4 separate regions of the Homo sapiens genome follow, and regions 1, 2 and 3 are each reported to be linked to region 4. The links are microRNA targets in miRTarBase. Many come from high-throughput screens and were not tested one by one. Region 4 holds a microRNA gene; each other region holds the end of a gene's coding sequence.
What was found. The annotated mature microRNA hsa-miR-450b-3p reads UUGGGAUCAUUUUGCAUCCAUA and lies in region 4 at 963-984, shown strand. An mRNA with a match to its seed (bases 2 to 7 or 8) in the 3' UTR can be bound and repressed. Matches are read on the target gene's strand: a 7mer-m8 pairs with bases 2 to 8, a 7mer-A1 pairs with bases 2 to 7 and ends in A, and an 8mer does both.

Region 1 (3,100 bases), not on the chromosome of region 4:
GGGGTTGTTACCTGATGAGCAAACAAATCAGAGAAGTTCAATGACTTGTCCAAGGTTACAGAGGCTTGGAGCTCTGGATTCAAACCCAAGTCACTGTGACTCAAGACCAGTGTTTTTCCCCGTTACAAGCAGACACAAAAGAATAACAATCCTTTATCATTTATACTGTATTCTCACGTTACATTATTTCATTTGATCCTCACAACAGCCCTGTGAGGTAGGTAGGGTTATGTATTACTGTTATGCCTATTTCACAGATGAAGAAATGGAGGTGGCTCAGTGAGGTGAGTGACTTGCATAAAGTCACACAGCATGTTAGTGGCTTCACTGCTTCTGCAACTTCTCTAAAGTCAAGCTGCTTGGATTAGGGAGCACCGAAAAGATGGACAGTTTTATGGAAAAGGAGAAAGGGCAGTGGTGATTTGTAAGATTTCTTCCTCAAATTGTTTTGTTATGACCACAGCTTCTGCTACTTGGTCTAAACTAGGTTCTCCATGAGGGGCTCTCCCAAGTACCCTTGGCCTGGGACAGCTGTCTTTTTTTGGGATGGAGTCTCTCTGCAATGGCACACTCTCAGCTCACTGCAACCTCTGCTATCTGGGTTCAAGCGATTCTACTGCCTCAGCCTCCCAAATAGCTGGGGTTATAGGCGCCTGTCACCACACCCAGCTAATTTTTGTATTTTTAGCAGAGACGACGTTTCACCATGTTGGCCAGGCTGGTCTTGAACTCCTGACCTCAAGTGATCTTCCCGCCTCGGCCTCCCAGAGTGTTGGGATTACAGGCATGAGCCACTGTGCCTGGCAGAAAAGCTGTCAGAGAGACTCCTGGGTCCCACCGTAGGGGGAAAAGGGCCTTTACTGCTCAAGGGAACTGGCGCTGCCCATGGCCCAGTGTACAAGCTCCCTACTCACAGGGCCTATCTATGGGAAGCCCCTTTCTGGGCCCACCTCCCATGGGTGCCTGTGTCACCAGGCTTCCTTGGCTTTGAGGACCCCTGCCCAGTGGGGGAGGACCCTGGGGACTCTCAAGGCCAAACTCACTTTAGGGATGAATCATGACGTGCAGTTTGGAGGCCTGCATGGCTCATCACCCGGTGGGAAGCAGTGCTTGGGTTGCTTGCCCTGGATGGCACCCTACAGAGACCCAGGGGTGGGACACAGGACTGCAGGGGAAGGCCGCCTTCCTGAGGGCAGGGTCTTAGGGGCCGCACATTTACTCTAAGGGCACTGTTACGGTTCATACCACTCCTGGGCTCCTTGCTGCACAGCACCCTTGGAGACCGTCTCTTTCCTCTGGATCTCCTCAGGGGCCGTGAATCTTCCTCTTCCAGCAGAAAATGGTCGAAAGGTATATGGAGCCACAGATGGTGGGGAAGGTGGGTGAAGTGGGGGTCACAAACGAGGTGAAGCTACAACAAAAGGGGACTGACTTACAGGGGATAGAAAAGAGCTAACTTTGATTCTGAAGACAGATCCCAGAGGGGAATCTGAATTCTGAGTAATGATGTTTTCAGAAAAATGTCTGGTCTCTCAAGGTGACTATTTTGAAAGCAAAGATATATAACTGGGTGAATGGGAAGGTCTGCAACCAAGATCCAGCAAGTGGCAGGACAGATTTTGGCTCAATATAGGGAAGAACTGTCTAACAGTCAGCACTGTCCAACCACAGCAGGAGCTGCCTTGGGGATGGCGCGCTTCCTATCAGCCAAGGTATGCAAGCAGGCCAAGGTGATCACTTGCAGGTACCCAGGGAGAGGCGCTCATCTTCAGATGTGCTGGGGTGTTCTAGGGGTGGGGGAGGACTAAGCAATCATCGAATTATTTCCAACCCTGAGAATCCGTAATAGATTTGTTTAAAATGACCTGTTTCAATGATACCTCAAATTTTTGGGAAAACAATGACAAAAGTCAGGTAACAGGCTGGATTTGGAAGTGATTTCATTACACTGGCTACAGATACTTGCACATTTTTGCAAAGATAGCAGACCCTTTCTAAAGCCAGGAATCCCTTGATTCAGCCCTATCAAGAGGGACATTCCTACCTTCTGAACTCTGCCTGGACACTCATTCCTCTAGACCCTGCCACACCTCATCTCTGACCCCCAAGAGGGGACACTAACAGAGCTCTGAGAATGCACAGCATTCCAAGCCAGCCAAACATGGTCACCCCTGGGCAAACATCCACGATCATGGATGCACCCTGGGGAGGGAGGAGCAGGTGTGACAGGAACCGCTGGGGACTTTATGTCCTGGTTAACTGGAGGTAGCCTCTTGTTCTCATCCCATCCTCTCCACCAGGGCCTTCTTACAGATGGATAAATGCGGCACTGGCTAGCGGTACAGAGAGATGGAGCCCAGGAGAAAACTGCTGCTCTTTTGTCCTGGCTGGAAAATCCTCCTATGGCCTCCTTTAGTACACATCAGCTGACTCTTCACTTGTCATAATAAACCGCCTGTCTGCAGCTCAAAATGGCAAGAAAAAAGGTGGTTCTGTTCAGAGGACACTGGATTCCAAAAGGTGGACTTCATCATGGGGGGAATCAAGTCCTGCTACACAATTAATACAGATTAGTATAGTCCCCTGCCTCGCACCACTGGCGAGATGCCCTCCAAGACCTGGCTGACATGAGCTTCCTGGGACTCCCCATCTCCAGTGTTGTTGGGGTCCTTTTACCTGTACCGTATTAATCGAATAATCTTATTGTTCATAAAATCCAGAGCATGTGGGTGAGAAGAATCGATGCAGAAGCCATCGCTCAGAGCGATTTTCAGTACCTCTTCCACGAAGACCTGGAAGCTGTTGATCTGCTTGTTGGCGGGCACCACCCAGAGCCTCTTGAGGTTCTGCTTGGTGTACTCCTCCTCTGGCAGGCCCTCCACATTGGCCACCCAGTCCAGAGTCAGGTGGTTGGGGTCCTGCAAGTGGCTGGTGATGGAGGAGAGATTGCCATTGGAGCAGTAGAAGAGCTTAGAGCCAAGGAGCTTGAGGAAGAGGCAGGAGGTGCTGAAGATGTTGGCGTTGAAGACCTCCATGCTGGAAGAGGAGAGGCTGTAGATCTGGGGTGCCTCGCGCACAGTGAAGTGGACCGTCTGCACAC
Region 2 (3,100 bases), not on the chromosome of region 4:
TCCCTCCCTTCCCCCGGGCCTCCCTCCTCCCCCTCAGTCCCGGCCTCCCAGGCTCAGCCCACGGCTCACTCGGTCTCTGCCCCTCTCACTCTCCAGGACCCTCTCTCCCGGGGTCGTCCTGCCAGTGAGCCCAGGCCAGAGGGAAGGCAGGACAGCTTTGTGGGGGGCGGGGGGGGGCGGGAAACGAGTGCAGGGTGGGGAACTGGACGGTGGTGACTCGGGGAGGAGGGGCAAGGAAGGCGCTGAGAGGGAGGGCGGTGAGGAGGATGGCTGGGAACCGGCTTCATTGGTGAAATGGTTCATGTCCTGCCCCCACCCCTTCCCGTTTTCAACACGAACACAAGCTCCAAGAGGCAGCTGGTGTTGTTGGGGACTGAGGAGCTAGCTGTTCGGGGAGGAGGAAGCGTGTGTCACTGTGTGTATCTGTGTGAGGGCTGGGCCTTGGGTTTGGGAGTGAGGGGGCTTGTGGTGCACACTGGGGCTGCTTGTGGAGTTGGGGGTGGTTGTGCACAAGCTAAAAGGATGTGGGCGCATGCATGCACACAGACACACACACTCTGCCTCCTCCTCCTGGAACACAAACACATATGTTGGGGATACAATTTGCACACACATGTTACAGTTTCTCATAGTCCTTTTTCTCTGCCACACACATACACCAGGAGAGCTCACACAACCCTGAGTCTCTCCCCCACGGTATATCACACACATGTAATTACAGAGTCTCAGCCTCACACACACACAGGCCCACACAGAGCCCTGTGGGTTGTGGAGGTGGGTAGCCAGCCTCCACAGAATTTTTCCCTCTCCAGGGAAACTTCATCTCCTTCCTGGGGCACGCCCAGCAACCTCTCCTCTGGGTCCGACCCCAAAGACCAGAAGATTCCTGGTCCCCAGAGAAGGGGTCTCTCTCTCTCTCTCTCTCTCACACACACACACACACACACACACACACACACACACACACGAAGAGCATCTTTATAGTAAGTTTATTGTATTTTTATTTCAGCTCAGGGGAGCAGGGGTGGAGAGTGGGCACAAATGCAAAGTAAGCAAATGGGGAGCCCCAGCAGCAATAGGGGGGTCTTCCTGGAAGAGGCAGGCTTTAAAGACAGGAGGAGAAGGAAATAGGGAAAAGGAGTTGGGACTGAGGGAAGTGGTGAGGAAGGGTAGGAAGAGAGGGGATCCTGAGAGAAGTGGATCAAGAAGATTTGTAACCCTGATTTCCCTGTGTCCTGAATGGTCTGGAGGAGGGTAAGGGAGGGTGTGGGGCAGGCGCAGAGCCTGGCACAATCACCTTTGAGGTCCCTTAGAGGGTTCCCTCTCAGGCTAGCTACCCCCTCTCCCAGCAAAGCTCGCTTCCAGGAGGTTCTGCACAGGGTCAGTGACTGGTCACTGGGCATTCTCTCCTGCAGTGCCTGTGCTCCCAGCTTGCGCTCTGATTAGAAGAGCCAAAGGCTTTGTCCTCTGGTAACAGATTCTGCCACCAGCGGGGGATGAAGGAGGGATTTTAGACAGGGAGGCCTTCATCCCTGCTCGTAAATTCTCTGAGATGGACCCTTCCCATGGGTGCTGTGCTTCTGTGAACCCAAAAGTACACATTGAGTACCCACCACTAGCCACTGGTGAGAGCCGTGTGGCATTTGTCCCTGCATTCAAGAGGCAGCAGTGGAACTTGGGACAAGGGACCTGGGTTAGTCCCGACTCCAGCACTTGCTAGTCCGGCACTTGGTAATCAATCATCTAGCCTCTCTGAGCTCTGGTTCTGGTCTATAAACTGGAGATGATCATCTTAGTTCTGTCACTGCCAGCCTTGTAGGATTTTTCTAAGTCTCAAATAGACAGAGGATGTGAGACATCCCTTGAGGCCGTGTACATGGGGCTGTGTCCAGAGGGGCTGTTTGTGCAAGGTCAGGATGTGAGTCTGTGGTCCCACCCACATAGGGTGAGAAGCGGGCAGCATGGGGCAGGAGGTACTGGCTGCCAGAAACCTCTGGATCTGCATCCATCCTTGACTGGCTTGGCTGTGTGATTTTGTGCAAGTTCCTGCCCTCTGTGGTCCCAGGGTCCTGTCTTGTAAAAGAACAGTCCCATGCTCCATGCTTCCAGACACCCAGCCTCACCCTCCATGCCAGCCAGGGCTGGCCCTGAACACTCCCCTGGGATCCAAATGAGCAGTGGGGAGAGGGTCAGAGAGAAATAATGAGAGAAGGGCTAGGCTTGAAGGAAAAGGAAATGGCGTGGAGGACGGTGTGATTAAGCCTCTGGAAACTAGAGAGCAACACTCAACCAGTGAAGCCGGGGCCTAACCCAGGAGAAACAATGGCAAATTGTAGAGGAGGCGAACAGGAGGCCAGAGGCTGGGGATCTGCTACATTCATCTGGTCCGCAGGCAGGAAACGCGGGGCAGACACCTGGGGAGGCTGCAAGTGGGATCTGCCTGGCCTCGTGCCTCAAATGGGGCTACATGTCTTCTGAAACCGGCTGCAGGAACAAAGAAGAAGGGGAGCAGGTCTGTCCCCACTGCAACCCCTTTGCGTTCTAGCACCTCCAATGGCCTTTCCAGCGCAGCACAGCTCCAGTGGCTTTCCAGCAGGGCCTTTCCTGGCCTGCTGCTCCTTCAGCTCCATCCTCCCACTTCTGCCTCCTTCTAGCTCCTGGCCATCTTTTCCCACCCCTCTATCCTCTCCACCACACCCCTTTAGCCCCCATCTCCTCACCTCCACCCCTCCCAGCTCTTCCTCCTCAACTCCTTCCTCCTCTCCATCCTCCCTTCCTGCCCCCCTTTGCTCCCCTTCCTCCCCCTCCTCTCTAACTCCCTCCCCCTCCCCCTTTCCCCTCTCTCAACCCCTCCTCCCAGATCCTTACTGAGGACACTGGCAGGTCTTCTTCTCACTGAGGAGTCTCTTGATCTGAGACATCCGCTCTGCTTGGCGCTGTCCAGGGACAAGAAAGGGAGTCACGAGGGTCCCAGGCCTCCAGAAGGGAGGTGCCCCTTGGTGGGGGGAGTGGGGGAAGCTGCGACAGGAGAAGCAGTTACATGGCCCAGGCCATCTATCCTGGAATTAACTCTCTGCTCCTTCCTGTCTCTCCCTTGAGT
Region 3 (3,083 bases), not on the chromosome of region 4:
AAATTTGTAGAAAAGCATTTTGTTATTTGACAAAGAACATATTTCAATGTATTTGAGTGCTAACTTTATTACAAAATTCATTGAAAATGCTAAAAATTCAAATGTGACTTCTTATATCCTGATCATAGTCCTATGGTCTTTTTGCCTTTTTTTTGTTGCAGTTTACCAAATTCGCAAAGTTTGGGCTGGTATGGCACCATGACTGGGTGTGGCAGCAGCAGTTACACAGTCACTCCCCACCTGAATGGACCTATGACAGATACTGCTCCTTTGCTCTTTACTTGTAGTAATTTAGATTTGAACAATCATCATAGCTTATATGTGACACCACAAAACTGACAGCATCACCAAGTCATGATTCTTGAGTTGTTTTTCATAAATGTGTATATTCAATGTGTTTAAATTCCATCTACATAAACATTCCATTATCTGTTGCAACTGAAAACAAAATCTGGAAGTGTGGCTGTGTTTGGTAAATAACACAGCTATTATTTTTGACCTCTTCATAGTAAAATGAAGTAAAATGGAAAGTTTGGAGTAGGAGAAAAGAGAGATTAGATCTTAAGGCACTTGATGGCCTCCAAAAATCCTGACTTTGGAACATCAAATGCATATGTGCACTTTTATCTTTGTTCTGAGTCACTGCAGTCCCCAAAGTCATATGCCAATGTTCACACTGAAATACTGTATTGTACACCAAACTGGAAGGCAATTTTCCTATGAAAATCAAAGCCGGTATATTCATTGGTATGCTCTATACAGATATCTTAATAAAAATTTTATAGTGTGAACAGTGCACAGAGTTAAGGCATAAAAATGTATCATTCTTTATAAAAATCTACTGAAAATGTGTAATCATTGAAGACAGTTCTTTTAAGCATGATTTTAAAATAGCAACTGAAATTCAATCATTTTAAACAAATGATGGTAGTAATCCATTAGTTATGGCCAGCAGTGTTCTTTGGAGAGCCACAATAATTTCAAGAGGAAAATATACCAGTGAAAATTGTGTGGCTATTTTGAGTAGAATTGGTCAGTTGATTATTTTGTGTAATTGAGATATATGTAGTAGTTTAAGCATGATTCTTGAAGAAAGCAATAGTGACTTTTGCATAGGGAGATTTTGGTAGAAACTTCTTGGGACTAAACAAGTTTAGAGATGCATTTAAGAATTATTCACAAAATGTGTAATTCTAAATTAAAACATAAATATATTTTCAAAAGCATTTGATTTCTCTGAAGCATGATATAGCTGGTCTTACCTAGTGAATCAGGATTGTCCTCAGGTAAATGAAATCATGATACATTATTGCAGTGAACTCAAGTGCAATACTTTGTAAGACATATAATTCCTATGATTTTCACATTTTTATATCTTATATATGGGAAAAGCCAAATTAAATTGAATTCAGATTAATTCCAGCATTAGACTAAATGAGCAAACTTAAGTAAATGTACAAACTAGGTAAGTATAAAACCACAGGTTAACAATATTGGAGTACTTTTAGAATTACATTAAAACTGTCTTAAATGTCCTATCCCAAATCTAAAAAAAAAGAAAATGGCAGGCTGAGATAATACAGAATTTTAAAATGCACTTTGTACCAGTGTCTATATGGAAAGAAGTAGATGCTGAATACCTCAAGATGCCAAGGGAACAAGCAACATTGGGAAGTTGTCACAACATGCTCAAAGACAAACTACAATTGTCTGCTAGCTATTTCTTCAGAACTGGAACTAATACGACTATCCTTTTCTGTTTTATACTTTGATTAGAATGTTATTTCCTCGCTTACTTAAAATGTACTTCAACTTTTTAACAACTGATACAATAACTTCATAAAAGTATAACACTAGGTTGAAACCTTAAGGAAAAATTGAAATTGTTAATGCTTTCGATCTTTTGGGAGGCCAGTACACAGACAAATAAATTTCTTCTTTTTATGATACAAAATGACTTTGTATTCAATCAGAAGCATATACTTATGTTATTTTGGGTTTGTTTATAATTCTCTCATTGTAACCAAATTATTTTAAAATGTATAGTATAAAAAGTTACCCGTGGTATTAAGTGACAAAAGCGTACTTTTATTACAACTCCAGTTGTTAGATTGCTTCTCAGAATGCTAACTGTTTATTTTGCTAATAATGTTAGGCATCTAATCATCTAGAGCTGTCCAAAAAGATATGTTGTCTTTGTTAATCCTTGGGGTTCAAGGTGATAAAGTTTTTCTAGTAAGGCTCCCCTCGATAATGTTCCTATTTGACCAAACTAACAAAGATTACTTTTTAAAAATTTTTCAGATAAAATAACTTGGTTCTTTCTGCTGCATTAGTTGATTGTTCCAAATTTGAGGTTTGTAAGTTTATTCTTATCACTGACTAGGGTACCCAAATTCTTGCATTTGTCTCCTTATACACATCTAACATATCACCAAAGACAAATAAAGATACACTCTGGCCCAATCTTTGCTTAAAAATTCCAAAGCACTAGGAGCACTTTAAGTTTGGTCTCGAAAGGAGTTGTTTATAAAATCAAAGGGCTACCGATTCCCTGTTCATCCTGCACTGAAGCACATGATGACAGTATCAAACCTTCATTTTTGTTCATTAAAAAGTGAATTTCATTACTTAAGTGTGTAATTCTATAGTGATTAGCAGTATTTGTTTTCATCATTTCACTTGGGTGGCCATTAATTTTGAAACCTTTACCACTCATTGTAGTTGGTTGTAGTTTTATGGAAAATGTAATTTATAGCTAAAGTGGCTTTTTTATGCATAGCTGCCTTTTTTATTGTTTAACAGTGTTTCTCAGCTATATAATCAGTTTCAAACTGGTTGTAAAAGTATAGCTGTGGCCAATGAATGTATTTATTTGTTGTTTCACTAAATTGTAACAAAACACTACTATTAAAAATAAAAGTGTTTGTGCTTTTATTTAGAGTTCTGGTTTTCTTCATCTCTTATAATGGACTATACTGAGTTTCTATCATATAAGAATAAGAACATAGTGCTACCACAAAAAAAAAAAAAATCAGGAGTTACAAATGATAGTTCGCCTTTAGTGATCTCATAATTACTTA
Region 4 (3,100 bases):
TTTAAATGTTTGTTGAATGAATTGAAACTTACATAAGGTATATGATTTTATACTTGTGCTAGAATGCTAAAATAAAGAATTTATGCTCAAGCAAACAACTGGAAAACACTTTGCTATAAGCATTACAGACACAGGGTCATTTTTAGTATGTTGAGTCCACACAAGTGGTCAAGAAAAACCATAAAAACTACATGAACAGAAAGCCCCAGTTAAAAAAAATGCATAAAGATGCTCATTTCAATATTTTAAGGATGGAAGTTAGGAACATCCTGAATGACCAACAACAAAGGATTAGACAAATAAAATACAGCGTAGCTAGCTAGTACAATAGAATAGGATGCTTTCATGTAAAATAATGTTTCTGAAAGTAATTTTCATGTCATGAGAATGTGCTCCTGATAAAACATTTAGCGATTGAAAAAAGGTGCAAAATATTTTCCCATCTCTGCAATATAGGTATATAGGGAGCATTCTGTATGAATAGTTTTGTATCAACATACAGATAAAAGGCTAGGAGGAAACATATAAAAACTTTATTGTGATTATCTCTGAGTTGTGGTATAAAGGTGACCAAAGAAAGATGCTAAACTATTTTTGCGATGTGTTCCTAATATGTAATATAAATGTATTGGGGACATTTTGCATTCATAGTTTTGTATCAATAATATGGGGAAAAGAGGCTATCAGGAAGTATACCAAAAGTCTAGAGGTGGTTATCGCTGACTTGTGTCACTATAGGCAATCAAAAACGATACTAAACTGTTTTTGCGATGTGTTCCTAATATGCACTATAAATATATTGGGAACATTTTGCATGTATAGTTTTGTATCAATATACAGATGAAAAGATGGAGGGAATAAGCAAAAAATCTAACAGCGGCTATCTGTGGTTTACTTCTGTGATAAATGTAAGATGCAGAATTATTTTTGCAATATGTTCCTGAATATGTAATATAAGTGTATTGGGATCATTTTGCATCCATAGTTTTGTATCAACATATGGAGAAAAGTCTAGGAAGAAATATACCAAAACTTGTAACAGTATTATAGTATAAAATTATAGGTAATGTTTGTTTTTCTCTTTATACTTTTATGTATTTTCCAAGTAATATTTGCATAAACAATAAAATGCATTGCTTTTATAGCAATAATAAAACATTTTATTTTTAAAAAGAGTTTGTATTTTTTTTAAAGCATGAACCCCTGACATAAGGGTGGGGGAAGACTTCCTATTTGGCCAGCAGTGGGCCTAGAATACTTTTTCAAACATATCTGGGAAACCTTTGTACAACTTCAGTTGGATCTGCAGTGCAAATGTGTTTTCATTTGCTCTTGGCAAAGAAAAGAGAAAGTATAACTAAAAAATATAACCACGACAGAGTTATAATAGTAATATTAGTAAACAAACTGCTATCTATGTCTAATCAAAGTAACATTTAAAGAAGTATAGAAAGCTGAAACAGGCTCCTTTTCCTCTAGTAGCAATTCAGGAAGGTGGTACTTGGATGCTCGCCCAGGGCCTCAAGACGCATTGGCCAGTTTGAGATATGCCCAAGTCAGGAAAACACCTTATTTAGGTTATTTCCACTCAGCCAACTTCTTGCAGATGCGGGTAAAGCCCCCCCTGCATTTTCCCGCAAATTCAGCTGAGCTCCATAGTAACTCTGGTGTTGCAGAACACATGTGACACCTCAATTTAGGCGATCCTTGTTCTGGTAAGAGATGGAACCATTTGGTCACGTACCTGGCCCATGGTCTGAAGGGCACCTACCAAGGTTTTAGCGTTCCTCAGTGGCACTGATTTGGACAGAGACACATTACAGGAGGATCTAAGTTCCTTCCTATCTTTTTAGTAGCATTTTGGGAAACTGTTCCCCCACCAAGGACATATTTGGCACTCTAGCAAGTCCATATGACTAGACATTACTTTCTTTTTTTTTTTTTTTTTTTTGAGACGGAGTCTGGCTGGCTCTGTCACCCTGGCTGGAGTGCAATGGTGCGATCTCAGCTCACTGCAAGCTCTGCCTCCCAGGTTCAAGCGATTCTCCTGCCTCAGCCTCCCAAGTAGCTGGGATTACAGGTGCCCGCCACCTTGCCTGGCTAATTTTTTTGTATTTTTAGTAGAGACGGGTTTCACTGTGTTAGCCAGGATGGTCTCGATCTCCTGATCTCGTGATCTGCCCACCTTGGCCTCCCAAAGTGCTGGGATTACAGGCGTGAGCCACCGTGCCCGGCCGACATTACTTTCAAAATAGATCCATCATATTCCTTAAAGGAGAAGCTGAGTTGTGAGGCAAATATATATACACATATCCATTTACAAAGATACAGGAGACCATTCCTCCAATTTTCTGATGCCCTGCCCTTGTTCTGCTTAAGAACATACAATCATACAACCAAACTGGTCCCCATGCTTAAATGTGTGTACTCCTCTTTAAGGAGCATAAGCATTTTTATCTGCCACACTCTGTCAATCAGAGCATATTTACTGGGTGCCTACCTCTGTGCTAGTTACTTGTGGATAGAGGAGCGGGTAGGGGAGAAGCGGAGGTTAAGGTGATACTGAGCCAGAGAGGCCTTGAACACACGAATACTTTGTCTGCCACTGGGTACAGAGCAGGGATCAGCTGAGGCTTTGACCTTCGTCTGAGCCAGGTCAGACCACACAGAGAATCTGCTTTGCTAAGCAACCATCTAAGTGGCCTCCTTTCCCCTAGGGCTCACTCTAGTCCCTGCTGGACAAAATGTATGGAATAGGGGCAGAGTGTGGGAGGGACCCCTTTCTAAATGGGAGGTCTCGCCTCTAGGGCTGAGAAAGAGAGAGAGAGAGAAATCATTCCAAATTGAGCATTGATCTTAAGCCCCTTTCGTTGACCAGTGAAAAAAAAATCTTCAGCCCCTGAATTTCTTTCTATATATGTATATATAGAGAAAGACAGAGAGACAGGGTCTCACTATATCGCCCAGGCTAGTCTTGAACTCCTGGGCTCAAGCGATACTCCCACCTCAGCCTCCCAAAGTATTGGGATTACAGGCGTGAGCCCCTGCGCCCGGCTGAATTTCTGAACCAGTGAAATGTCCTAGAATTTGGCCAGTACAG

Region 1: miRTarBase lists KCTD21 as a target of hsa-miR-450b-3p. Seed matches in the 3' UTR shown: 7mer-A1 at 773-779 and 7mer-A1 at 542-548.
Region 2: miRTarBase lists CD4 as a target of hsa-miR-450b-3p. Seed matches in the 3' UTR shown: 7mer-m8 at 2,431-2,437 and 7mer-m8 at 2,161-2,167.
Region 3: miRTarBase lists GPR137C as a target of hsa-miR-450b-3p. Seed matches in the 3' UTR shown: 7mer-A1 at 1,538-1,544.

Annotation. Positions count from the first base shown.
Region 1 is chr11:78,171,100-78,174,199 of GRCh38, forward strand. It overlaps KCTD21 (potassium channel tetramerization domain containing 21), which reads right to left. Exons shown (of 2, transcript NM_001029859.3): 2 at 150-3,100. The coding sequence ends at 2,673. It overlaps KCTD21-AS1 (KCTD21 antisense RNA 1), which reads left to right. Exons shown (of 3, transcript NR_102281.1): 3 at 2,721-2,878. Among named protein-coding and RNA genes, the nearest start is that of KCTD21, 16 kb to the right of the region's middle. RefSeq lists an enhancer at 2,740-3,100.
Region 2 is chr12:6,818,683-6,821,782 of GRCh38, reverse strand. CD4 (CD4 molecule) reads right to left here. Exons shown (of 10, transcript NM_000616.5): 9 at 2,869-2,936; 10 at 984-2,484. The coding sequence ends at 2,454. Among named protein-coding and RNA genes, the nearest start is that of GPR162, 1.6 kb to the left of the region's middle. RefSeq lists enhancers at 1-951, 1,922-2,422, 2,423-2,923.
Region 3 is chr14:52,634,777-52,637,859 of GRCh38, forward strand. GPR137C (G protein-coupled receptor 137C) reads left to right here. Exons shown (of 7, transcript NM_001099652.2): 7 at 162-2,937. The coding sequence ends at 339. Among named protein-coding and RNA genes, the nearest start is that of ERO1A, 59 kb to the right of the region's middle.
Region 4 is chrX:134,538,078-134,541,177 of GRCh38, reverse strand. It overlaps MIR450B (microRNA 450b), which reads left to right and starts at 916; the gene lies at 916-993. It overlaps MIR450A1 (microRNA 450a-1), which reads left to right and starts at 747; the gene lies at 747-837. It overlaps MIR450A2 (microRNA 450a-2), which reads left to right and starts at 571; the gene lies at 571-670.